3 linked regions of the Homo sapiens genome follow. The protein of the gene in region 3 purifies or fractionates together with the protein of the main gene of each other region. This does not show direct contact. Each region holds a gene or a part of one and is shown on either strand. Other genes may lie near its edges. The genes, in order: LYPLAL1, FAHD2A and TST.

What was found.
Region 1: the proteins of TST (region 3) and LYPLAL1 fractionate together in Homo sapiens (co-fractionation; 2 studies listed by BioGRID). This does not show direct contact.
Region 2: the proteins of TST (region 3) and FAHD2A fractionate together in Homo sapiens (co-fractionation; 2 studies listed by BioGRID). This does not show direct contact.

What each region holds. Positions count from the first base shown.
Region 1 is NC_000001.11:219,168,718-219,177,332, forward strand, and holds the start of LYPLAL1 (lysophospholipase-like protein 1), read left to right. Parts: upstream 1-5,160; 5' UTR 5,161-5,173; coding exon 5,174-5,264; exon of another isoform or gene 5,265-5,587; intron 5,588-6,243; exon of another isoform or gene 6,244-6,303; intron 6,304-8,615.
Region 2 is NC_000002.12:95,412,708-95,418,579, reverse strand, and holds the end of FAHD2A (oxaloacetate tautomerase FAHD2A, mitochondrial), read right to left. Parts: coding exon 5,816-5,872; intron 5,686-5,815; coding exon 5,623-5,685; 3' UTR 4,615-5,622; coding exon of another isoform or gene 4,535-4,614; 3' UTR 4,397-4,534; coding exon of another isoform or gene 4,348-4,396; 3' UTR 4,299-4,347; coding exon of another isoform or gene 4,241-4,298; 3' UTR 1,964-4,240; downstream 1-1,963. UniProt on the Homo sapiens protein: Tautomerase that converts enol-oxaloacetate, a strong inhibitor of succinate dehydrogenase, to the physiological keto form of oxaloacetate. It is thereby required to maximize aerobic respiration efficiency by preventing succinate dehydrogenase inhibition.
Region 3 is NC_000022.11:37,015,401-37,023,997, reverse strand, and holds the start of TST (thiosulfate sulfurtransferase), read left to right. Parts: upstream 1-4,550; 5' UTR 4,551-4,598; intron 4,599-5,244; 5' UTR 5,245-5,265; coding exon 5,266-5,860; intron 5,861-8,597. Other genes in the region: MPST (3-mercaptopyruvate sulfurtransferase), read right to left, coding at 4,126-4,161.

The sequences.
Region 1 (8,615 bases), on a different chromosome or scaffold from region 3:
CATACCTTGATGCCAATTATACATATATAGAAAATATTCATAAATATATATACACAGAGAAATATGCACATACACAGACACAACCTGAAAATAGTCTACTTCAGAATAAAGTGCACTTCCATTTTTCAAATTGCAAAAATTGACTTTATATTTTCTAATTATCTTTTTTTAAAGGTCTTTTTAAATTTTTTTTCCTGGCTTTTAAAAGTAATCACAGAAAGAGTAGGAAGAGATTAAGGCTGCTAAACTCAGCCATACAAGGAGGAAGGAGAATCACATGTGCTGATCTTTCTCATACTACTAACTAAAAGTTTATGTAGTGCAATTAAGAGTTTTGAACCATTATTTTATAAGTAGAGTTAAACATCAGAGGTATATTCATAAATGAGTGGCACATGTCACATATTTAAATTCTTTCAGGATCTCAGAATGACAGAACCTGGGGCTTCTCCATCAAGTCCTGCTCCCTTATTTCACAATTGGAGAAACGTGTCCAATGAGACTAAATGGCCTGTCTAATTTACATAGCTTGTCATCCCCGAGGCTGGAACAGGAACTCCTATCATTTCATTACTTCAACATTTTTTATATCTACCTATCTAATCTTCTCTTAAATGAATGTAGCAAAATACAGTAGATATTCTGACTGCATTCATAAGGAAATTACTCTTTTGGCTTTTATTTCTTTTCTTTGTAATAGACGTATGCAATGCAATGACTTCCCCTCATCTCATGGTAGGATTTGAACTTCCCTGCCCTCAAGGGCCCAAAACCTGATTAGGGGTTGCTGTTGATTCTTGCCCTGGATTTCAAAAGCCTGAAAATTTGTTATAGAAGAAAAAAGTAATAGGTTCTAGAGTACAGAGACAAATATGAAGATTGCAGGAGGGATTCCTCAGACTCATATAAGCACTGAGTGGAAGTTGAATAAGAAGTGTTTCCAGAGGGTAACTTAGGAATTTGAGAACTGGCCATAAGAGGTGTCCAAATGGAAGAAGACCCATTTCCCAGAAAAGAGGAGACAAATGGCAATGCAAAGAACATTGTTCTGGTGTCCAAGCATAAACACTGACCCTGTAGCCTGCACCCAAGGGAGGAAAGTTCACTGTCCTCCTCTAGGGCCTACATACTGCTTTGGTGTGTATCATGTTGACTGTTAATAATCCAGCAGAGTAATCACTATCCATTCTCCAAGGCTGCGTTTGGTCTGTGTTTGAGGAGCTCATGTATTCCCCTACCCCTACTGCCAATGCCATCTCAGTCCATCTCACAATGCCCCACGTGACCCATCTGCTCTAAAAAGAGAATGAGACCATGCACATCTAGTAGTAAGGTAAAGTAGAGGAATGACCCATATCTGTATCTGGAAAGACTGGACTGAAAAAGATTAAGGTCCCCAGAACTGAGGCAATGATTATGTTAAAGTTTATAATCTCATTTATAAAAAGTATAGTTTTGCTGTTTTGTAAGAATTCAGGACCTTTAAGTTTGTTTCTAGTTTTTCTTTCATGAATGGACAGGGGGAATGCATAAAAGAAATCATTTTATTTATCTATGACAAAATGTTAAATTACCTAAAGCTGAAGCTGAAGCATTTTGTGCAATGTGTATATATTGTTTATATATATATGTGTGTGTGTGTGTGTGTGTGTGTGTGTGTGTGTGTTTCTCTCTCTCTGAATGATGCAACAGATGAAAACTAACCAATAGAGAGGATATGGTTTGATGCTTAAGAATGAGCCAAACAACAAACGGGAAACTGTGTACTGTCTGCGTGACAAATGCAACTTCATTTAACTGTTATCATTTGAAAATACCAAGTATACTAATCTTGTTCATTGTTTTTGTTTCTTTTTTGAGACAGAGTCTTGCTCTGTCACCCAGGCTGGAGTTCAGTGGTGAGATCTTGGCTCACTGCAACCTCTGCCTCGGGGTTCAATCAATTATTGTGTCTCAGCCACCGGAGTAGCTGGGATTACAGGCATGCGCCATGATGCTCGGCTAAGTTTTTTTGTATTTTTAGTACAGATGGGGTTTCGCCATGTTGGCCAGGCTGGTCTTAAACTCCTGGCCTGAAGTGAACCGCCTGCCTTGGCCTCCCAAAGTGCTGGGATTACAGTAAGCCACTGCACCCAGGCAAAATATACTAATCTTAATGGCTGAACTTTCAATTGCTTTTCTGTTTTGAAAACTAAGTGTGGCCTAAAGCATTTCTCAACACACTGAAGAACAGTAAACTAAACTCCGACTTTGCCATTTATATCGTTAGATCCTAATTGATATTGAAACCCTGCAAAACAGGAGAACTTTTTCTTTTTCTTTTATTTTGTTTACTTGCTTTTTTAAGTTTAGAACTGAAGTTACCAAAAGGAGGTGCATATAGATTGGCAGAAAGCAAATGAGTAGCAACAAAAAATAATTAGGAGCTATATAAAGAGTAAAAGAATGTATGAATAGGAATCTTCCAGTGATAATATTCCCCCACCTTCAATAGGGCAAAAGATCCACCACAAAAGCAAATAGTCATCTTGAAACTTAATTACATTTCAAAGTAGTACAGTAACATGAAAGGAACAAAACATTTTTGTTCAACAGTTTGCCTACCAGATGGGATCTCTAAATATAGGTAATCTAAAACCTTTGCTTGTCCTATAAACAAATACAGATGAAAGGAATAGCAACAATAGCTAAGCATTTAAATCACTGGAAATAAAATAGCACTTTGGTTAAGTGTGGAAGAATCTGGCTCATTCTAATAATGAATCTGGGAAGGCTGGAGTTCTCAGTGAAATTCAGAATACAGAAGGTTGCTTCTGGTATTTACCACCTGCTTATCTACCTGTTTAAACTGGTAGAATAGTTGGAAGAACAAATCAGGAACTAATAGCAGTAGACTTGGGAAAAACTAAAGAAGCACAGGAACACCTAATAAATAGAGACTCTAAAGGGCCACAATACAAATTCCAGACTTTTGTTTTTGAAATAAGAGTTGCGACATGCCCTTGCTTCATTTCTGTGCACTCATGTGTAAATGTGGGTAATAGTTAAGAACCTATGCTCTGGAGTCAAGCCCAGCATGTGAATCCAGGTTCTACAATTGACTGGCACTATGACTTTGAGCCAGGTTCCTTACCTCTTTGAGCCTCATTGACAAAAGCAGATAGTAATAGTACTGAGTTTTATTGGAATTAATTTATGACAGTTTTTGGCACCTACTGAATCCCATGAATATTAGTTGCTTATTATTATTAATAATCATTACTCTTAAATAATTATATTCTGATTTTTTGCTGTCTCAAAAGCGTGGGGTGGTGTACAGTAAGATTTTCAGGTAGTAAATGGAGTTCTAAGAGTAGAACTTAAAGCCTTCCCTGTATATCTCCAAGTGGTCTTTCCTAGTAGCACTGCCCTCTTCTCACCTGGCTAGGGAAGGTTATCTAGAACTCATACGGGGAAGGCAGGTCAAAAGACAGAGGTTTTTCTTTTAAGAATTGGCTATCAGAGCTCAGCCTACCCTAGTTTGTCCTCCTCAGGGACTTCACTTATACAACTCTCTGCTGCAGATCTATGGGCTTTGGAGAAATGACTCAGAATTTCTTTTTGATTTGGTTAACTAATGGCATGTAGGACCATTCTTGTTGATGGTATTGTTATTAATATAACACCATGATAGCTTAGAGCTGATTTTGGCAACTAATGTTGATAGTAAACAGTTTACTTACCTGTAAGTAGGGTGATTACCTGGAACAAATAAAAGGTAAGTTGTAATTGCTAAAATGTAATGCAGACTACAATGAATGGAAGGCCAGTGTTTAATGGTACTTAAGCTTTTACTGGGTTATTTTGTTGAATTTTACATGAGGCAAGAGCAACCTGCTGGGGCCACTGCCTTCAGTATTAAAAGATACCTATGTTTTGGACTTTATACAGGAAATAATTCCATTTCTTAGTATTTTTAAAATTATGGTAAAATACACATAAAATTTACTAGGTGTATAGTTCACTGGCAGTTATTAACACTGTTGTACAACCATCATCACTGTCCATTTTTAAAAATGTTTCACTATCTAAGCAGAAACTCTTGTACTCATTAAACAACAACCTCCCAACTCCCTCTTCCCTTAGTCCCTGGTAACCTCTAATTTCACTTTCTGTCCCTATGCATTTGCCAATTCTAGATATCTCATGTAAGTGGAATCATACAATTATTTGTCCTTTTGTGTCTGGCTTCACTCGGCATAATGTTTTCAAGGTTCATCCATGTTGTAGCATGTATCCGAATCACATTCTTTTTACAGGCTGAATAATATTCCATTCCAATATGTACATAGCACATTTGGTTTATCTCTCCATCTGTAGATGAACATTTGAGTTGTTTCCACTTTTTGGTACTTGTGAATAATGCTGCTACAGAACACTGAAGTACAAGTATTTGTTTGAGTCCCTGCTTTCATCTCTTTTGGGTATATACCTAGAAGTGGAACTGCTAGTACCTATGCTAAGTCAATGTTTAACTTGTTGAGGAGCCACCAAATTATTTCTATTGCCGCAACATCATTTTACATTCTGATCAGCTATGCACAAGGTTTCTAATTTCTACACATCTTTACTAATACTTATTTTCTGTTTTTTTGATAAGAGCCATTCTAATGGGTATATAAAGCAGAATCTCATTAAATTAGATTTGCTTTGTAAACTATTTATTAAAAATAAGAGACACGAAGAGAACTTATTATTATATGCTTCGCTTACCCTGTATATCAAGAGCTGCAAACATCCTGTGCGAGTCCCAAAGTGAAAGGTAAAATATGGTTCTATTAAATTTTAAACATAGTAACACGAATATTTCTCCAAATAAGGTAATCTTGAGTTTTGGGATTGCATTTAAAATTCCTACAGCAAATGCTCAGGATATAAACATATCCATTAGTCATTACAGAAGTCCACACGAGGCTGACACACGTAGAATACCATTATTAGCAAAACTAAACTCAGTACAGTTACAACTGCCTCAAACTTGACCCCAAAGTATTGAAAGCTCCTCAGAGAGCGGGCCAGCAGCGCTGCGCATGCGCGCTCCCGGGCGTGCTCCCGCGCGTGCCTGCGTATTTGCGTGCGCGGCCCCGCGCGGCAACGCAGGGGCGGAACCGCATGACTGGCAGTGGCATCAGCGATGGCGGCTGCGTCGGGGTCGGTTCTGCAGCGCTGTATCGTGTCGCCGGCAGGGAGGCATAGCGCCTCTCTGATCTTCCTGCATGGCTCAGGTGGATTTCAATTTTACGTCCTGGTTTTCTACAGCTCGGGAAACATCCTCCCCTCGGTTACCCCAGTATTGCCCAAGTGGAGGTGTCGCCGGGCCCAAATAGGGCCCAGTGGGTGGCTCCCCCGTCGCCAGCCCCGGCTGTAGATGCACGGGCAGCGCCACCTGCCCCCAGCCTCCCCCGTTAGTCTTCCTCTTTCTATCGGGCGGTCACTGGTCCACCACCCTCGCTTTGGGGCCTTGTGTCCCGCCGCTCAGCCAGCCCTCCATCCCCACAACACACCTCCCCATTCCTCGCCCCAAGTTTAAACAGAGCAAGTTAGTAAGGTAAGTCTTCTGCTAGAGGGAAATTATTTAGTGTTTTTCATTATCAGCTACTAGTGATTTTTCAGTCGTAATTGCCCATTGCTTTTTCCAGGCTCCCATACTAATGTAGACAATTGAGATTCACAGTTAACTTAGATACTGTTTACAGATTATCTCTTTTCTGTAAGCCACTGTGCCATGGCTGGAGTGCTTTCTCTCACTTTCCTTTTTGCTGCTTCTCTTTCCTTCCTTTCCCTTTCCCGCCTGTGTCATTAAACTTCCAAGATAGACTACAGGGGCAGGACCCCCAGGGACAGGCATCTTCCACTACCTGCCCTTAGTAACGTGTGCTTAATGCTGTATCGTTACTTAACACTCATCTGTAATCACTTTTGTCTGTCTTCCCCACTGGATTGTGAACTTCCCACTGGATTATGAGAGTAAGGGCCCTTGTGTCAACCTTTGCACCCCCAGTGCTTGGCCCAGGGTAAGCTCTCAGGAAATGTTTTTTAAAGAAATGAGATGCAGCCGGTGTCCTCAGGGGGCCTACCTAAAGTTAAAAACAAAAACAATCCAATTAGTTTGAGTCAGCAGTGCATGGAAGATCACAAGACGGTGCATGGTTTCCTGCCAAGTGAATTGTAAGAGAAAAAAATGTGGTTAGGCATTATTAAGGCATTTGGAAGATGAAAAGCTTGTCAGACTTTTCGAAGAAAGTGGTCTTTGAGCCGAGACGGGTAGGCTTAAATGGGACGGTGATTGGAAGGGAATTGGAAAGGTACTGGGCAGAGACCTGGAAAAGGGCAATTGTGGGAGGTATTCTCTTTATTTTGAAAATGAGGCCAGACAGGTTCAGCAGCTTGGCCAAGGTCTCTTAGCTGTTACTGTGAGTAGTGGCGGATTTGGGATTAGAACCCAAAGCTCTCCGACCTCAAACTCAGGGCTTTGGTGGGGTAAGGTGAAAAAGTTTGAACTAGGATATATTGTTTTGGAGATAGGGAAGAAGAGGTCCAATAGTGTTTAAAGGGAAAGACGGCATATATTTAGAAGGTGACGTGTGTAAGATGACAGCGGTACTTAATAACTAGGAGACTGGTAGTACTATTTAGGGCTCCAAGAGTGTTCATTTATAAGTACCCAGAAATTCCCCAACACTGTACCCTTTCTCATAATCAATTCTCATTATCTTTAGGAAGAACTCCTAGACTATGTTCTTTTTTCCCCTGGACCTCTTTGCTTAAAATAATTATCCTTTTTTTGAATTTCAGATTACATTTTTATAACCTGTAAGGGTATGTCTCTAAAATTCAGAGTCATGTATGTATGTATTTTTTCCTTTGTACTTTGAACCAAGAATTTATTCAAAGAATTCTGCCAAGTATGCGAGTATAATGTGATTCCTATATATTTAAATCTCCACTGAAGTAAATAAAACCTTATTGGGAGTAGGTCTTTATCATCTTTATCGTTGGGAGTAGGTCTTTATCATCCAGTAGGTCTTTAGCAGCTAGTGATTTTACATTCAACTTTAATGTATGTGGTTATGTTATAGGAGATGTTTGGTTTCTGCTTAACTAGAATATGGGCAAACCAATTCTGTTTTATCACACTCAGTTTTGCCATACTGTTAACCAGTTTTAACACTTTTACTATGGAATAAAGTACTAGCTTTTTAAAAAGTGGACATTGGGAATGGATAGATGTTGTTTTGCAGCTGCATTCTTACTCTTCGAGGCTGAAAAAATGTTGTTAAAGACAGATTTTGTGTTTTCAAATAAAAAACCTTAAAAGCTTGAGATTTTCTTCTAGGAGATAGCAGCCATAGAAGAACATATGGGAGTGTAAATTATATGTAGCCAACTTAATTTGAGCCTTTTCTATTAATAAAGTACTAAAGACGGACCTTCTTTTAAGATGATAAAAATAAATGATAGGTTAATGAGTTTTGTTCAGTCTCTCAGATCAGATTAATTCACTCTTATTTGCTCCCATAGGACACTGGTTCTTCTTTCAGTGGTAGTCATCATACTTGTAATTATGTAATGTAATGTCTGTATTCCACACTAAGCTAGTAGGTCCACAAAGCCCAAACCATGTGTCTTGTTTATGGCTTTCTTCTTGTGTGGTAAGGCTCAGCAAGTTGACTGAGTAGCTTCTTGGTAAAGTCACCAGTAAGCTCAGGCTCTATGTCGCTCAATGTAATGGACATTTTCAGTCGTCCTCTTACGTGAACTGTCATCTGCATTCAGCTTTCTTCTCAAAAAACTCTCCTGGTTCTTTTTCTGTCTTGATTTGCTCCTTCTGGTTTCTTTTGCAGACTCATCCTCCTCTACCTGGCCATTAATGATGGGGTTTCTCTAAATTTGGTCCAAGGTCTTTTCACTCTACATTTTTCTCCCTAGGCTAATCACAGAAGTCTCCTAGAGATACCCATTTGTGTCACTGGTGTATAGGTAAAAATAGAACCTTTGAATTTCTGTGGAGATTCATAGATTCTATTTTTGAGCTCTAGACAAGTTCATCTAACTGCCTGATAGACATTCATTCATGAATCCATTCATTCAAGAAATATATCACAGCCTCCATGTGTAAGGCACTGTTCTGTGCTCTGATCATACAGCAATGAAAAAAACAAATCACTGCTCTCATGGAGCTTATGTTCTAATGAAGTAAATAAATACTATAGTAGAAGGTAGTAAGTTTTATGGAAACAAGGAAAGCAGGATAAGGGGATTCTTCCATGGATGAGAAGTTGGAACAGTGTTACAATTTTAAATAAAGTAGTCAGGTTATGCCTCACTGCAAAGATGACAGAAGATGAAACTTCACAGCTAGACTTAGACTTGGCTTTAAAGCCAAGTCGGAGGCTCCAGGGTAGGGTCCTTGACATGTTCAAGGAACAGCAGTAAGGCTAGTGTGTCTGGAGTGAGAAGAATAGGAAGGGATATCCAAGAGGGTACTGGCATCCAGGTAGTGTAGGGCAGGGGTTGGCAAACTTTCTGCAAAAAGTCAGGTAAGCATTTTAGCTTTTGTGGGCCATGTAAGGTCT
Region 2 (5,872 bases), on a different chromosome or scaffold from region 3:
TGTGCACACCTGTGGCTCTTCCTGTCTTTCAGATTACTCCACGTATGCCCTCTTCTCTGACTTTTTCTTCATTCCCCATCTCCAATTCAAGGTTCATTTTTAATGTTGGGGCCTTGGTCACATTCTCTTCTTTCAATACACTATTCTCTGGCCTCCTCCCAACCTTCATGCATCAGTGCTCTCTTCTAAGTAGGGAACAGATATATCTCTCTGGCCTGTTTCCTGAGCTCAGGGCAAGTATTGCCACCAAACAGCCTCAAAAACAATATATCCCCATGTATCCCAAGTACAAGACATCCTCTTTCCTTACACACACACACACACACACAACCACCCCCAACCCCATACTACCATCTATCCATTTTCTATTTTGCCTGTATCTATGTCAGTCTTTGTGATACTGCTCAGAGACTTCTACAGGTACTTGTGGTACTTTGAATGTGGATAGGCCCCTGAAGGAGTAGGTGAGATTAATCCAGTGAATTGTGGCTTATTGCCATTATTGTGACCCAATCTTTAGATTCACCCTATTGAGGCCTAGAGAAGTTTGATCTACACTCGATTCTATCGTCTGAGATACTCAAAGCAGCACCAGAACAAGCATACATATGCAGACAACTTAGGGGTATTTGTTTTGTGGACTGCATATTTGTATACTCCCAAATGTATGTTGAAACCCTAACTACCAGTGGGGTGGTATTTGGAGATGGGGCCTTTGGGAGGCTATTGGGTCATGGGGATGGAGCCCTCATGATGGGATTAGTGCCCTTATAAGATAAAATATGAAACTGCTTGCTTCCTCTCATTCTCATTCTTTCTCTGTCTCTCTCTCTGCCATGTGATGACACAGCAAGAAGATGGCCACCTCCAAGCCAGGAAGAGGGCCCTCATCATGCTCCTGACCATGGTTGTTCCCTTCAGCAGCATGTGAAATAGACGTTTGTTGTTTAAGCCACCCAGTCTATAGTATTTTTGTTATAGAAGCCTGAACTGACTTGACAATTAGGTAGCTCCAGGCCTAGTTTTAGATCAAATGAGGCCGAAGGGCATCCTTGGATATCTTTTCTCTCATAGGTAAATATGTGATCTTTACATTAATTCTGCATTTTTTTTCCCAAAGCCTCTGGTAGAGAGCCTCCCAAATAGCCAGCTTCCTGTAAATGTAGCTGAATGGTGGAATTTGCCTGGCTGCTTCTCTTAGTCAGGAAGCCTGAAAAACTGGCACTAGAGGATCTGTAAATGGGAAGCTGCTGCAGCTTCCTGCAACTCAGCTCCCAGATCCTTCATTCCCTGCCTAGCCAGATAGCATCCTAAGGGTGATGTTTAGGATTCAGCATTAAGGTCAACTCAGGGATGAGCTGCTTTGAATCCTTCATTTCATTGATGGAGGCAGATGTTCTGAGACATTAAGGAACATCCCTATAGTCCCCCAAGGTCTTCTTATATGGCACCTGCCTTTATTTACTTTCTTTTTAGAAAAGATTGCATCATTCTTAGATGGCCATTCCTGGGATGGGCAGAGGGGGCACTCTGTGTGCCCCTTGCCTGCAGTGTGTTGGTGGGAGATACAGTCCCATGGCACATTTTCATCCTGTGACTTTCACCCACAGCTCTGTGGAAATGCTGCCTGGAAGAAAAGCATATCAGGGTACCTTTGGAGAGGTTGTCCTGGGTGGATCCTTAGGGTCTAGAGGTCTCAGCAGAGAGACGAGGGAAAGAAGGAGTGTTCAGGGGTAGTTATGTATTGGGAAATCCAAGCCTTTGTGTGGGTATCTCCTAGTTCATATGGAACCCAAGAATTCTCAACTATTCTCGAGGACTCTGCTTGGACCTTGTAAGGATCCGTGCCTTCCTGGATAGCTGAAACTCGGTGTCAGTCACATTTTCAACAGCTTTTATTGGGTACCCGCCTCTGCGTCTTGTATTGTCATAGCAGTTTACACACAGCAAGCCAGACCAGGAGTGAAGAATTCATGTCATTTGTTATTTTCTTTTATTTGTGAATATGTGTGGGGTTGGGAGACTGGGTGCTAGACATGAGCTGAGGTCCAGGCTAGGCACAGGGAGCTGACAGCTGCAGGACATGCTAATTGGTCTGGGAAGGCCTTTGGAATCTAGGGAATTGGCTTTCTGAGCTGAGGCGGGGTCCAGGCAAGGAGGCAACAGGCTGCAGGAATCACAAAGGGACCGGGGACCTCCATGTACCCAATATCTAGGTCTCATCAGTCGGAGAAACATTCTCAGCTCTTGGTGACCTTGTCCTCCCTCAACACGGTACTCACTGCATATGGACTCATTTGACAATTGCCACAAAGGCTTTGGCCTCAGAGGCACTTTAAGGATATAACAGTAGGAAAGGGAGGCTTGGGGAGCCAGAGAGTCACCCACACAAAGCCCCACACGTGTTCCTAGCAGAACCAGGATACACACCCAGGCTTCCTGAGGCCACATGTCCTCCCTGTGGCTGCCTGGTCATTCCCCTTCACCTAGCAGCTGTCTTGCTCCCATGTAGAACAGCAGGGCCCAGCGGCCACCTGCACCTCGCCATTTCCTCCAGCTCTGTGCTAGAAATGATGCAAGCAGGAAAATCATTTGCTTGTGGACCTACTATGTGTCAGGCACCTGCTGAACAGTAGCATTTGATGCTCTCGACGGCCTTAACAGGTCGGCACTGATCTGTTGATGCTGCAGTCGAGGAGCTTTAGCTTAGAGAGGTTAAATAGCATCCTCAAAGTCACCCAGGTCATGCTCTGCTTCTGGAGGGGCTGGGATGCAGCATGGGAGTGTGACCTCCTGCGCACGGACTGCACGGGCCGCCTCGCAGCCGGCATGGTGAGGTGAGATGAGTTGAGGTAAGCTCGCAGCTCCTTGGTGCCAGCCCTTCCACAACCAGAGCTGGGCGGCAGCAGGCTCTTCCCCAGCTTACCTGGGCAAGAGAGTGAGGACTGCACGGCTGGCGAGTGATACATGGAGAGTGTTGCCGCCTGCCTGACAGGCAGAAGATAAACAGCTCCCCGTTAAATCTCGCTTAATGCTGATATTTATAAATTTATTCAGCTTGTGTTTACCGAATCAAGAGAATGCCTAATAACATAACATGCTTCATCTCACATGTTCCTACTAATGAGAATGCAAGTATTGCTTTTTTTTTTTTTTTAACATTTCATTTGCTTTCCACTCACTCCACCCTGTTCTGTTGTTGTTGGCTTAGAGTTTAATCTGTTGCTAAACACTGGGAAGTCTGGGCTTCTCGGGTGTTAGTGAGGAGAGAGCCAAGGTGGGTCTGGGGCAGTGGCTGGACCAAGGCCTCCAAACTGTGCCCTGTCCTACATGCAGTGCTTGGTGGACATGGAGTTGGCATACCCAAAGGATGGGCCATACTGAGGGAAAATGAAAGTCCTGGTGTCCTCTGCTGTATTTTGGGGTGGCTTCGTGCATTGGGTCAGGGTTGCAGTATTTGGGGGCTTCGGGACAAAAAATTTAGAGTAGAGCAGTGTCCTTGGCTTTGGACAGACAGGAGGATGGACAGAATGACCAAGGAAACATAAGCAACATTTGTGGGGTGTGGTATAGCTGGGTGTGAGGATGAGTGTGTGAGAGGGGTGGAGGGCTCCGTCTCTACCTTTGTTTAATCTGCTTACTGAGTTATTGGTTTTGTTTTTTGTTTTTTTTTAAGAAAGCCTTTCCCTGGCTGCTTATCGCCCCAAGGTCAGCTGTGCTGGCTGCTGCAGGTTCAGTTCTGGGATACCCAGGGCAGTCTTCACCAGGCAGGAGGAGCCATCGGAGTGGGGCAGGGAGAGATGGCAAAGAGATCAGCAAAGCTCATGAGGGTGTTTGGAAATGCATTTGGCAAAGAAGTGATGGTGGAGTGAGATGAGATGGTCTGTGCTGGGCTTCCTTGGGTGGGGTGGGTGGGAGAGGGGAATGAGGGTGCCTGGCCTCAGAGGCCAGGTGGACAATGAGTCGAGTGGGGTTGGGGGGCACCAAGTAGAATTCTGGAGCAGGGAGGAGGAAGGCCGCGGAGAGGCTGTCCAGTGAGGCAGGACCAGGATGGGGGCACACAGGGGACGGGAGAATGGAGGGAGACTAAGTCTGATTCAGGAAAACAAAAACAGAATCTGGGACGAAGCAGTGGAGGAACTGAGACGGGGTGCAGGCCTTCCACAACCTTTCCTTCCCCATCCCACCACATCCTCTGTTTTCCCAGCTCCACATCTTCATACTCTATATCCACCCAGCACTAGATTTTCTTTTTGATGTCTTCTTTTTCTTCTCCTCTCCAACAGCTGTTCCAGTTCCTGCAGGCCACCGCCCAGGAAGAAGGGATCTTTGGTGAGTCCCAACCAGTCAGCCCAGGCTCCTGCAGGCAGTGGTGTTTGCTGGTGGCTGCTGCCCCCTGCCGGACAGTGACAACCCAACTCTAGGAAGGCGGGCTGCAGAGTAGTCTTCTGTCCAGTCGGAGATCTATCCCTCCCTGGGCTTCTTTAAACAAGAGGAGAGAAGCCTGTGCCCAGTGTCTCCCTGTCCTCCCTACCTAGAGCCTTCACTTCTCTCTTCTTTCCAGAGTGTGCAGACCCAAAGCTTGCCATCAGTGCTATCTGGACCTTCAGAGACCTAGGGGTGAGAGGAGCCAGTGTCACCATCTTCTGTCCCCCTGCTCCCACCCCAATAGAGTGGCTCAGGGAAACCCAGCTATGTTCCCATCACCCCACAGGGCTGGCCTGATGGTGCCTCATTAAGACCCTGGGATTTACTTGGTGTCTTCCAGCAATAGACGTGGTGATGGGTTGGAGAAGGTGGGATGGTTTCCTGCCTCTTGGTCTCCCAAATCACTGGCTCATCCTTCTAGGTGGGGTATTGGGGCTGCTTTGAGGCAGCATTTGCACTCAAACACTGAGGCCTAAGGGGTCAGAGGTCTCAAGGCAGGTTTCTGGGGGACAGGCCTGGCCCCTGGGCCATGTGGACACAGTCCCTGTGGTGAGTGCACTCACGGCCCATCTTCCATGGCCCAGGTTCTGCAGCAGACGCCGAGCCCTGCAGGCCCCAGGCTCCACCTGTCCCCTACTTTTGCCAGCCTGGACAATCAGGAAAAACTAGAACAGTTCATCCGGCAGTTCACTTGTAGCTAGAACTGTGAGAAGGAGCCTGTGCTGAGACTTCTGAGCCCCAGAACACAGCTGTGTCCTAGAGCCAGAAGATGGAGAGGAGGCTGCAAACCCTTAGCTATAAATATAATCATTGAGGCTTGATTGTCCCTTGCCATCTCTTGCTTTTTCCCTTCTTTGATGTGATAAACAAGGGGACGACACGAATTGTCTTTTCCCCAGCCCAGCAGCATCTTTTTGGCATATGTGTGTGTATTTGCTCTCTTCTTCCCCAGTCCCACAAAATGCCCCAACTTGTCCCATGAAACAAAGCCCAAAAGAAGACAAACAGCAGAAGCAAAGCTGCTGCTTTGACCTGACGAATTTATTGAAGAGAGCTCTGTCCTTCTCCCTTCTACCGAGAAGAGGCGGCTTGCAGGGCTGGCACCTGTCCACACCTGTCACTGGGCCTTTCCCTGGGCTAGGCTGAGTGGGAGCAGATGCCCTCATCCTATGTGCAGGGCCTGTGCAGGAGCCATCACACCACCTTGTTGATGATGACACCTAGTTCTTCAATCTCACACTGGACTTCATCCCCCTTCTGCAACAGAGCAGGCCATGACAGTGTCAGCCCTTCCGTCAGACACACATACACAAGCCTGTACTTCTCAAGTCTGAGGCAAGCCTGCCAGGCCTTTGGGGCCCTTGCTCTTTGCTTTTCGCTAACCTACCTTGAGAAAGACAGGAGGTTTCCTGAATACACCGACACCTGGGGGGGTCCCAGTTAG
Region 3 (8,597 bases):
CATATAAACACAAGCTCCGAGTGACCCAATGACCATGACCTCCCGGAGAGCCCCAGGCCACGCCCCTCACCTCCACTTGCTGGGCAGGAGGGTGGGTGGAGGTATCCTAGGGCAAGGCCCTGCTGGCTTCAAGGCACAAACAGGGGCAAAGTCTCCACCCCTCCCTAAGATGCAGCTCGGCTTTATTTGCAACCAAGTCCCAGACGGAAGTCATTCATTCACTCATCAAGCATTTATATTGGCGACCTAATAGGAACAGTAGCTGGAATTTACTGAGTCCTTGCTGGGTACCACTGAATCCTAACAATATCCTAGAACAATGCCTGACACAGTAGACTCTCCAGTATGTGTTGAATGAGTGATCTTAAGAGGCCTGGTATATTATTGTCACCGTTTCAAGGAGGACACTCAGGCTCACAGAAGTGCACTAACCTGGCCTGGTGCGGTGGCTCACGCTTGTAATCCCAGCACTTTGGGAGGCCCAGGCAGGTGGATCACCTGAGGTCAGAAGTTTGAAACCAGTCTGGCCAACATGGTGAAACCCCGTCTCTACCAAAAATACAAAAAATTAGCCGGGCTTAGTGGAGGGCACCTGTAATCCCAGCTACTCGGGAGGCTGAGGCAGGAGAACTGCTTGAACCCAGGAGGCGGAGGTTGCAGTGAGCCGAGATCGTGCCATTGCAATCCAGCCTGGGGAACAAGAGCAAAACTCTGTCTCAAAAACAAAAAACAAACAAGAAAAAGTGCACTAGCCTGACCCGGCGGTGCCAGGCTTCTCACTAGGCAGTCAGTCTGGCACCAGAATCCGGACTTCTCAGACACACACTCTGTGCAGGCTCCAGGAGTCTGGCGAGGCCAGGTTTTGCCTGTCCAGCCTGGGCTCTCTCTGGCCCTTCTAGCAGCAGCAACAGTGACTTCGCACCTCCCTCCCTCTCCTCTCTATCTTTCCTGCATACCAGAGACAGTGCACCAGCTCGCCAGCCCACTATGCCAGGCCAGCCCACAGCCTTCCTGGGTGTAAACTTCCCAAACACTTTAAGCCCTTTGTGCTGGGAAGCCACCGTTGTGCAGGTGAGAGGAAAGGGCCCCTTCTGCCAGGCAGAGGCTGAGCCCCCACCAGGGCACATGGCTGGGTGTGTGGAGTATGGGCTGCAGATCAGCCCTCACTTATCCCCTGTGTGAGGCCCAACCTTGACACCCACTGCATGCAGTCCTGCCAGCGAAATGAAGGGGGCAGGTAGAGAACAACATCTGTGGACCGAGTGCCTCTGTGGGCCAGGTCACATGCTAGGCACCGCAGCCTTGGGCGGGTATTAGGACGCCTGCTTTATGAATGAGGCCACTGGCAATTAGAAGAATAAGTGCCTTGCCCGTGGTCACAGGAGGCAGCCTCAGGATTTGCAGCCAGAATTTGACCCCTCAGGCTGGACTTCCCCTGCCCCAGGTGCCATGATGACCAGGGCCTAATGAGTTCTAGGGTGACACCCTGTGCCCACCCCCACAGTCTGGCCGCAGCTGGCTTTTAGGAACCTACTTCACCCATGCGGTCAGGCCTTGTGCCGGACACCGAGGCACTCTTGCCTTTGCCAAGCCCTGGGGGGAAACGTCAGGCTGCAGGCAAGAGAGAGTGAAATTGAGGATAGTTTAGAATTCAGTGTTGAGCACAGAGGGCCCCTATGTTTGCCTGGGGTGGCAGCAGAAGAGGTGGGAAGGCTTCCTGGAGTAGGAGGAAGTCCAGACTAATCTGACTTTTCCAGGGGCCCAGGAAGCCTCAGCACGGTCTTTAGGGTAGGGAGGCTGCCAAGGGGTGTTTGGCTAAGGGGTGATCCCCATTATCTGCGTTACAGCACAGCTAGGGGGCGCTGTGCTGGCAGATGCTGCAGGTTCCTTCCTGAGGAACCCTATTGTGGGAACCACAGCAGCCCCTGTGCACCCCCAAACACTGTCCCCTATTCTTGAGGATCCTTGTTTCCCTCACCCAATCATCCATTTACAGTAGAAAGAGCCCTGGTTTAGGAGCCAGAGAGCCCCCCAAATCAATGTAAACCCCACTCCACTGCTTAACTGGTTGTGTGATGTGGGTGTGTAGGGTCTCTGGGTGGTTTCTGTTCCTTATAATGGAGCTTCTCACCTCCACCTCTTAGAGCCAAGATTAAACAATAAATGTAGAGGGGCAACCACCATGCATTACATCTGGCTGGTTTTAATAATCATTAAAAACGGTTTAGGTCGGGCGTGGTGGCTCACACCTGCAATCCCAGCACTTCGGGAGGCCAAGGCGGGCGGATAACGAGGTCAAGAGTTCAAGACCAGCCTGACTAACATGGTGAAACCTCATCTCTACTAAAAATACAAAAATTAGCTGGGCATGGTGGCATGAGCCTGTAGTCCCAGCTACCCGGGAGGCTGAGGCAGGAGAATCGCTTGAACCTGGGAGGCAGAGGTTACAGTGAGCCGAGATCGCGCCACTGCACTCCAGCCTGGGCAACAGAGTGAGACTCCATCTCAAAATAATAATAATAATAATAATATTGCATTATTTCTTCCATTACTCTCATTGGTGGCCCTGGAACTGCCAGCAGCAAATCTAAAATCTTAGAATTTCAGGGCTTGGTGGGACTTCAGAGATCTGAGGTCACCCTGCCCCAGTCTCCCTGCTTGATTGGCACTTCTCACAAAGGTCTGTGGGCCATAAAGGAGGGTGTGAAGGCAGGCTGTGGGTGTCAGGGAGGGGTAGAAACCAGGTGCCTGTGTGATTCAGAAGCCGGGATCACTGTAGGTGAGGGTGCCCTGGGAGTGGAGGACCCCAGGACGTAACCGCCCCAGGCTCATGTCAGAAGGATACACAGCTGCACTGAAGCAAGCGTGAGCCGCAGGCTGGATCCAGGGTACCCCTTGAGGAGCAGAGCTTGGGAGCTCCTCTTGGACCTCCCCAGCCTGGTCCCTCCTGCCCACCCCCTCCCCCAACCACCAGACACTAGGCTTTGAGGATTGCTGTGAGCATTTTAGAACAAAACCTTTTTTTAAAAAGAGGGATGAGGCCAGGGATGGTGGCTCATGCCTGTAATCTCAGCACTTTGGGAGGCTGAGATGGGCAGATCACTTGAGCCCAGGAGTTCAAGACCAGCCTGGACAACATGGTGAAACCCCATCTCTACCAAAAATTTAAAAATTAGCCGGGAATGGTGGCACATGCCTGTGGTCCCACCTACTTGGGAGGCTAAGGTGGGAGGATCGCTTGAGCCTGGGAGGCGGAGGTTGCAGTGAGCTGAGATGGCGCCACTGCACTCCAGTCTGGGCCACAGAACCACAGCCTGTCTCAAAAAACAAAACAAAACAAAAGGTCAGGGTTGGGAAACAGGGAAAGCTTCCAGGCTGGCCTCTGCAAAAGCTAGGGAGGGGCAATGGTGTCCCCCAGTTTGCAAGAGCCCATGGCGAGCTTTTCAGGAATTTTGCCAACTGGTTGTTAAATACAGCTATTATTAAAAATTGAATTACATCAACTTATGATTAAACGGGCTAAGTTCAAAACAGGCAATTTTTTAAAAAGCATGAACCTTCAGGGAAGAGCCAGGTAAACAAAGGCAGCTGGTACCACGTGGGCTTCAGACCAGGGATCAGGCCCGGCCTCAACTCTGGGTGTGTCCTCCAGCAACTCGCTCTGCCGCTCTCTCCTGTCTTAGTAAGTTTCTGGCCTACTCCTCAGGGTTATTGTGGGAATTAAGTCACACCACGGGAGTACCCAGCAAAGTGCCACACCAAGCAGGGCTGGACAATGTTAGTTCCTTTCACTCACTAACAAGTTATTGGCTAGTGTCTCTTCCTGGGGCCTCTGGGTCAGCGGGGTCTCGTCTCCCTGTCCTCCTCTCTCTCCCCCGCCCTCTCTGGTGCCACCAGGTCACCCACTTCCACCCAAGGCTCCCCACCCGCCACTCGCCACGACCCCACCCGGCAGGCCGCCCCAAGCGGACAGTCACCCTTAGTGCCAACGTAGCGGCGCGCCTTCTCTCCTAGACTAAGCCCCCTCTTCCGCCCAGGTCCCGCGCGGGAGCCCCGCGCCGAGCACCCCCAAAGAGCCACTCCCTCCCCCTCCAGAAAGGCAAGCCGCCACGCCGCGGCAGTTACCCGGGTCTCGGACTCCCGGCTTCCTGGCTCCGCCATGGCCCCCGCGGCGCGGCGCCCCCTCCCCGCGCCCGCAGCTGTCCCCTCCTCCCGCCACCAACCTGCAGCGGACCAAAGGGAGGAGACTCCGGCACAGCCCACCGCCGCGGCCACTCGGAGCCGCTGCTGCCCGCGCCTTCCACTGGCCGGGCCGTGGGGGTACGCCCGCTCCGCCCAGCCCAGGCCCGCGCGGCCCCCGCGCCACCCGGCGTCCCCCTCAGACCCCCGCGGGTCCCGGAGGCCCCGCGCGCGAGGTTGGCAGGTGCCGGGCGCGAAGCGGCCGCGCGGGGGAGGCGCGGGATGGCGGCGGGCGGCGCAGGGTCCCCCTCTGGCGGTGGCGCGATGGTGCGCGCCGCCTGGGGAGCTGCGGCCGGGGGTTTGAACCGGCCAACTTCTCCAGCCGGCCGGGGCGAGCGCCAGCGCGGCGTCCGGGGCGAGTGAGTGCGGGGCGGGGGCAGCGGCCGGGCGCCTGGGCCGCCGGTCGGGCCACCTGCTGCCCGGGGAAGGATAGCGTTGCGAGAGTGGGACGGGGTGCCCCGGGAACCCCTGATCCACCTAGGGCAGAGGGCAGCGAGCTACGGGCCGGACTCGGGCACTCTGGAGGCGGGCGAGCTCGGGCTGCCTGGGGAGGCCGCAGGCGATGGCGTGTGCGCGGCTCGCGGAGCTTCCTAGCCGTGCGCCCACCCCCTCTGCCTTGGAAGGAAAGGGGATTCTAAGCCCAAGATGCCATCGCCCCCCATCCCGGGCATGCTTTCATTGCTCTTTCCTGGCGGGATCGAGTACTGTAACTTCTAGGAGCCAGATCCCCGCCCCAGGAAGCGCCCCTACTTGGAGTCCTCGGAAACTCTTGCCCCACCCGCTTCTGCGCTGGGCCCCCGGGCCGGCTGGGAGGGGCGGGGCCGGCTTTCCAGAGGGAATCTGCAAACTTATCCCGCTGCACGCCCCAGCCTCGCTGGCTTGCTGTAAACAAGGAACCCGGGGGAGTGCGGAGGGAGAAAGAGCTTCTCCCAGGCCTCACCCTACTGCACACACCGACTTCCTTCCTCACGCCTGTCTCTCTTTCCTGGTTCCCACCCGTGCCAGGTGACACGCAGAGCTGAAGCCATGGTTCATCAGGTGCTCTACCGGGCGCTGGTCTCCACCAAGTGGCTGGCGGAGTCCATCAGGACTGGCAAGCTGGGGCCCGGCCTGCGGGTGCTGGACGCGTCCTGGTACTCACCAGGCACCCGAGAGGCCCGCAAGGAGTACCTCGAGCGCCACGTACCCGGCGCCTCTTTCTTTGACATAGAAGAGTGCCGGGACACGGCGTCGCCCTACGAGATGATGCTGCCCAGCGAGGCTGGCTTCGCCGAGTATGTGGGCCGCCTGGGCATCAGCAACCACACGCACGTGGTGGTGTATGATGGTGAACACCTGGGCAGCTTCTATGCTCCCCGGGTCTGGTGGATGTTCCGTGTGTTTGGCCACCGCACCGTATCAGTGCTCAATGGTGGCTTCCGGAACTGGCTGAAGGAGGGCCACCCGGTGACATCCGAGCCCTCACGCCCAGAACCGGCCGTCTTCAAAGCCACACTGGACCGCTCCCTGCTCAAGACCTACGAGCAGGTGCTGGAGAACCTTGAATCTAAGAGGTTCCAGCTGGTGGATTCAAGGTCTCAAGGGCGGTTCCTGGGCACCGAGCCGGAGCCGGATGCAGTAGGTAGGTGTCCCAGTGCTGGGTGGTCCCTGGGGAGTATTGCCCCATGGAAGGATAGGGAGTAAGGATGACTGGGACCCTCTCCAGGGTCCGTCCCATGCCTTCAATCCTCCCATGTAGGCCTCAGTCTTTCCATCGATAAAACCAGAAAGTGGAGACAAACCTAAAGGCTTTTTCAGCTTGGATGCACAAGGACCCAAGAATGTGTCCTCATAGCCATGTGCTAAGAAGCCACCTAGCATCTGTGTGAGCAGAAGTCACTGGTGACATGTCCACCACCTCCACTCCCAGGCACCAGCTGCCCCACATGTACTAGGATATACCTAAGGGTGTCATGCCCCTGAGCCAGCGTTTGCATTGCTGTACAGAAACCTCCCACGGACACATCCAGCTTCTCCAGGCCTCTCTCGTCCCGCAGAAACCCTTATAGACATCAACAGTGTCCCTCCCCGCAGGATCCCCCTCTCCCCAAATCTAGCTCTCCTGGGGCCCCTGCCTGCTGTTTGCAAAGGTTCCATAACCTTTCCAGGCAGCTGCAGCCCGTCGGCAGAGTTGTAACAGCAGCTGCCATTTCATGCCAGACACTTGGCACCGCATTATCTCAGCGAACAAAGCTCAATGCCCCTGTTTTGGCAGCGGGGGGTGGGGGGACTGAGATGCCAGGACATAAAGTGGTGGAAGGCAGGATTCGAATCCAATGCTGCCTTGTTTCAAACCAGGGCTATAAACCAGGACGCACCCAATGCTGCCCTACCCCTACTTCCCAGGGCCAGGAGGGAGTCCCCTCTGCTAGTTGCCCCAGGAAGGCGACTCAGAAGTTCCCCTCCTGTGGAAGGGAAGGCCAGGTGGATTGGATACTGCTTGAGGGTTGGGGAGAGCCTCAGGAGAGGAAATGCTGAGTTCTAGAACCTCCTAGCCAGACAGAACCTCGGAGGTCTTCCCTTTTCTAGAGGCAGGACTGCCGTCTCGCTGCCATCACTCCTGCTGAGTGCCCTCCAGTCCCTGCCTGGCCATTTCCAGGAGCAGGGCCCTCTCTTGTCTCTGGGCACCTCCTTGGTGGCTCTTTCCTCAGTCAGAGCTCCTTCTCTACAGAATCTAACTCGTGTGCAACATTTTGCCTGACTTGTTGAAAAACATCTCTTCCTGTCTGTACCTCCTACAGAGAGAATGCTGGGAAAACTGTTCTGCACACTCTTAGAGCTGGAGGGCCTGAACGGTGACCTCACCTGACAGAGGGGAGACTGAGGTGCACAGAGGCAGGGGCCAAGGCCGCATAGCTAGTTAGTGACAGAGCCAGGACAGCAGGGTCTCTGCCCTTTCCAGCGCAGCTTTTTCCAGGCCCCATATTTTTCTTGCCTGCTTGCTCTCTGAAGGTCTGGAGTTGAAGATTCAAGTTCATTTGGCACCTCCCAGAGAATCCTGGCTGGGAACGCCTGCAGCCCTCTCCTGGCCTTGGTTCAAGACGCCTCTTCTCCTTGGGATTTAAGCTGTCATGGGGGAGGATCAGTGGAATTGGTTCTCTTGCTGCTTCCCAGCCTGCCCTGAAGCAACCTAAGAAATAAGTGGAAGGGACAGCTTGGAGGTGCCAGGCCCAATGTCCTCACCCATTTTACAGATGAGGAAACTGAGGCTCAGAGGAGGAGAATGGCCTGCAGTGGGTAATGCCTCCTGAAGGCCCGGGATGCTGAAGTTCCTCCTCTGTAATTGTGTTCACACCTCCTTCAGTTTCCCTCAGGAGCATCAGGGAACATGGATTCTCATTTCAGCTCAGCCACTCCTCCTTGGAGTGACCTCAGTCCAGTTGCTTGGCCTCTCTGGGTTTCCTTATCATAAAATGAGAAGAGTCACGCCAGCCCTACCCACATGAGTATGCATTTGTTTAAATGTAGCAGTGGCGGCCGGGCGTGGTGGCTCACGCCTGTAATCCCAGCACCTTGGGAGACCAAGGTGGGCGGATCATGAGCTCGGGAGTTCGAGACCAGCCTGACCAACATGGTGAAACCCCGTCGCTACTAAAATGAAAAAAAAATTAGCCAGGCGTTGGTGGTACGTGCCTGTAATCCTAGCTACTTGGGAGGCTGAGGCAGGAGAATCGCTTGAACCCGGGAGGTGGAGGTTGCAGTGAGCCAAGATCGCGCCACTGCACTCCAGCCTGGGCAACAGAACAAGACTCTGTCTCAAAAAAAAAAAAAAAAAAAAAAAAAAGTAGCAGTGGCTGGAAAGGGATTTCAAGAAGGGTAAGGAACGATACAAATCCTGGAGGGTGTGGCACTTCCCCCCCAACCCCCTCCTCCAAGAGGCTTTGCTGGCCTCCCATACAAGATATTTTGGGGACACAAAGGCACATGAGGCTCTGCCAAGTTTATGGTTCCCAGCGTGGTGTGGGATCAGGGAGGCACCCTGTAGGTTCAGCGGTCCAGATGTAACACACAGGGGCATGGGGGTGGCAGACCTGGGGGTCAGGCATTGGCCCTGATCATCTCTGGAAGGAATGACCCTAAATGGAGCGAGAAGCAGAGCTTAGACACCTGGCGGCCACTTCCTGCTCACCTTAGGCAAGCGCCTTCCTCTTTGGCTGTAGTTTTGTGCCTCCACAAGCTCTTAGTCCTGGAGTCAGCCAGATCTGAGGTTCCATCCAGGTGTGATACTGATGCTTAGCCTCAGGCTAGTGCCTTCACCGCTAACTGTTGTTCGTGAAAGGAGCGCTGCTCACCTGAGAGGAGGGCTGGAGGAAGTGAGA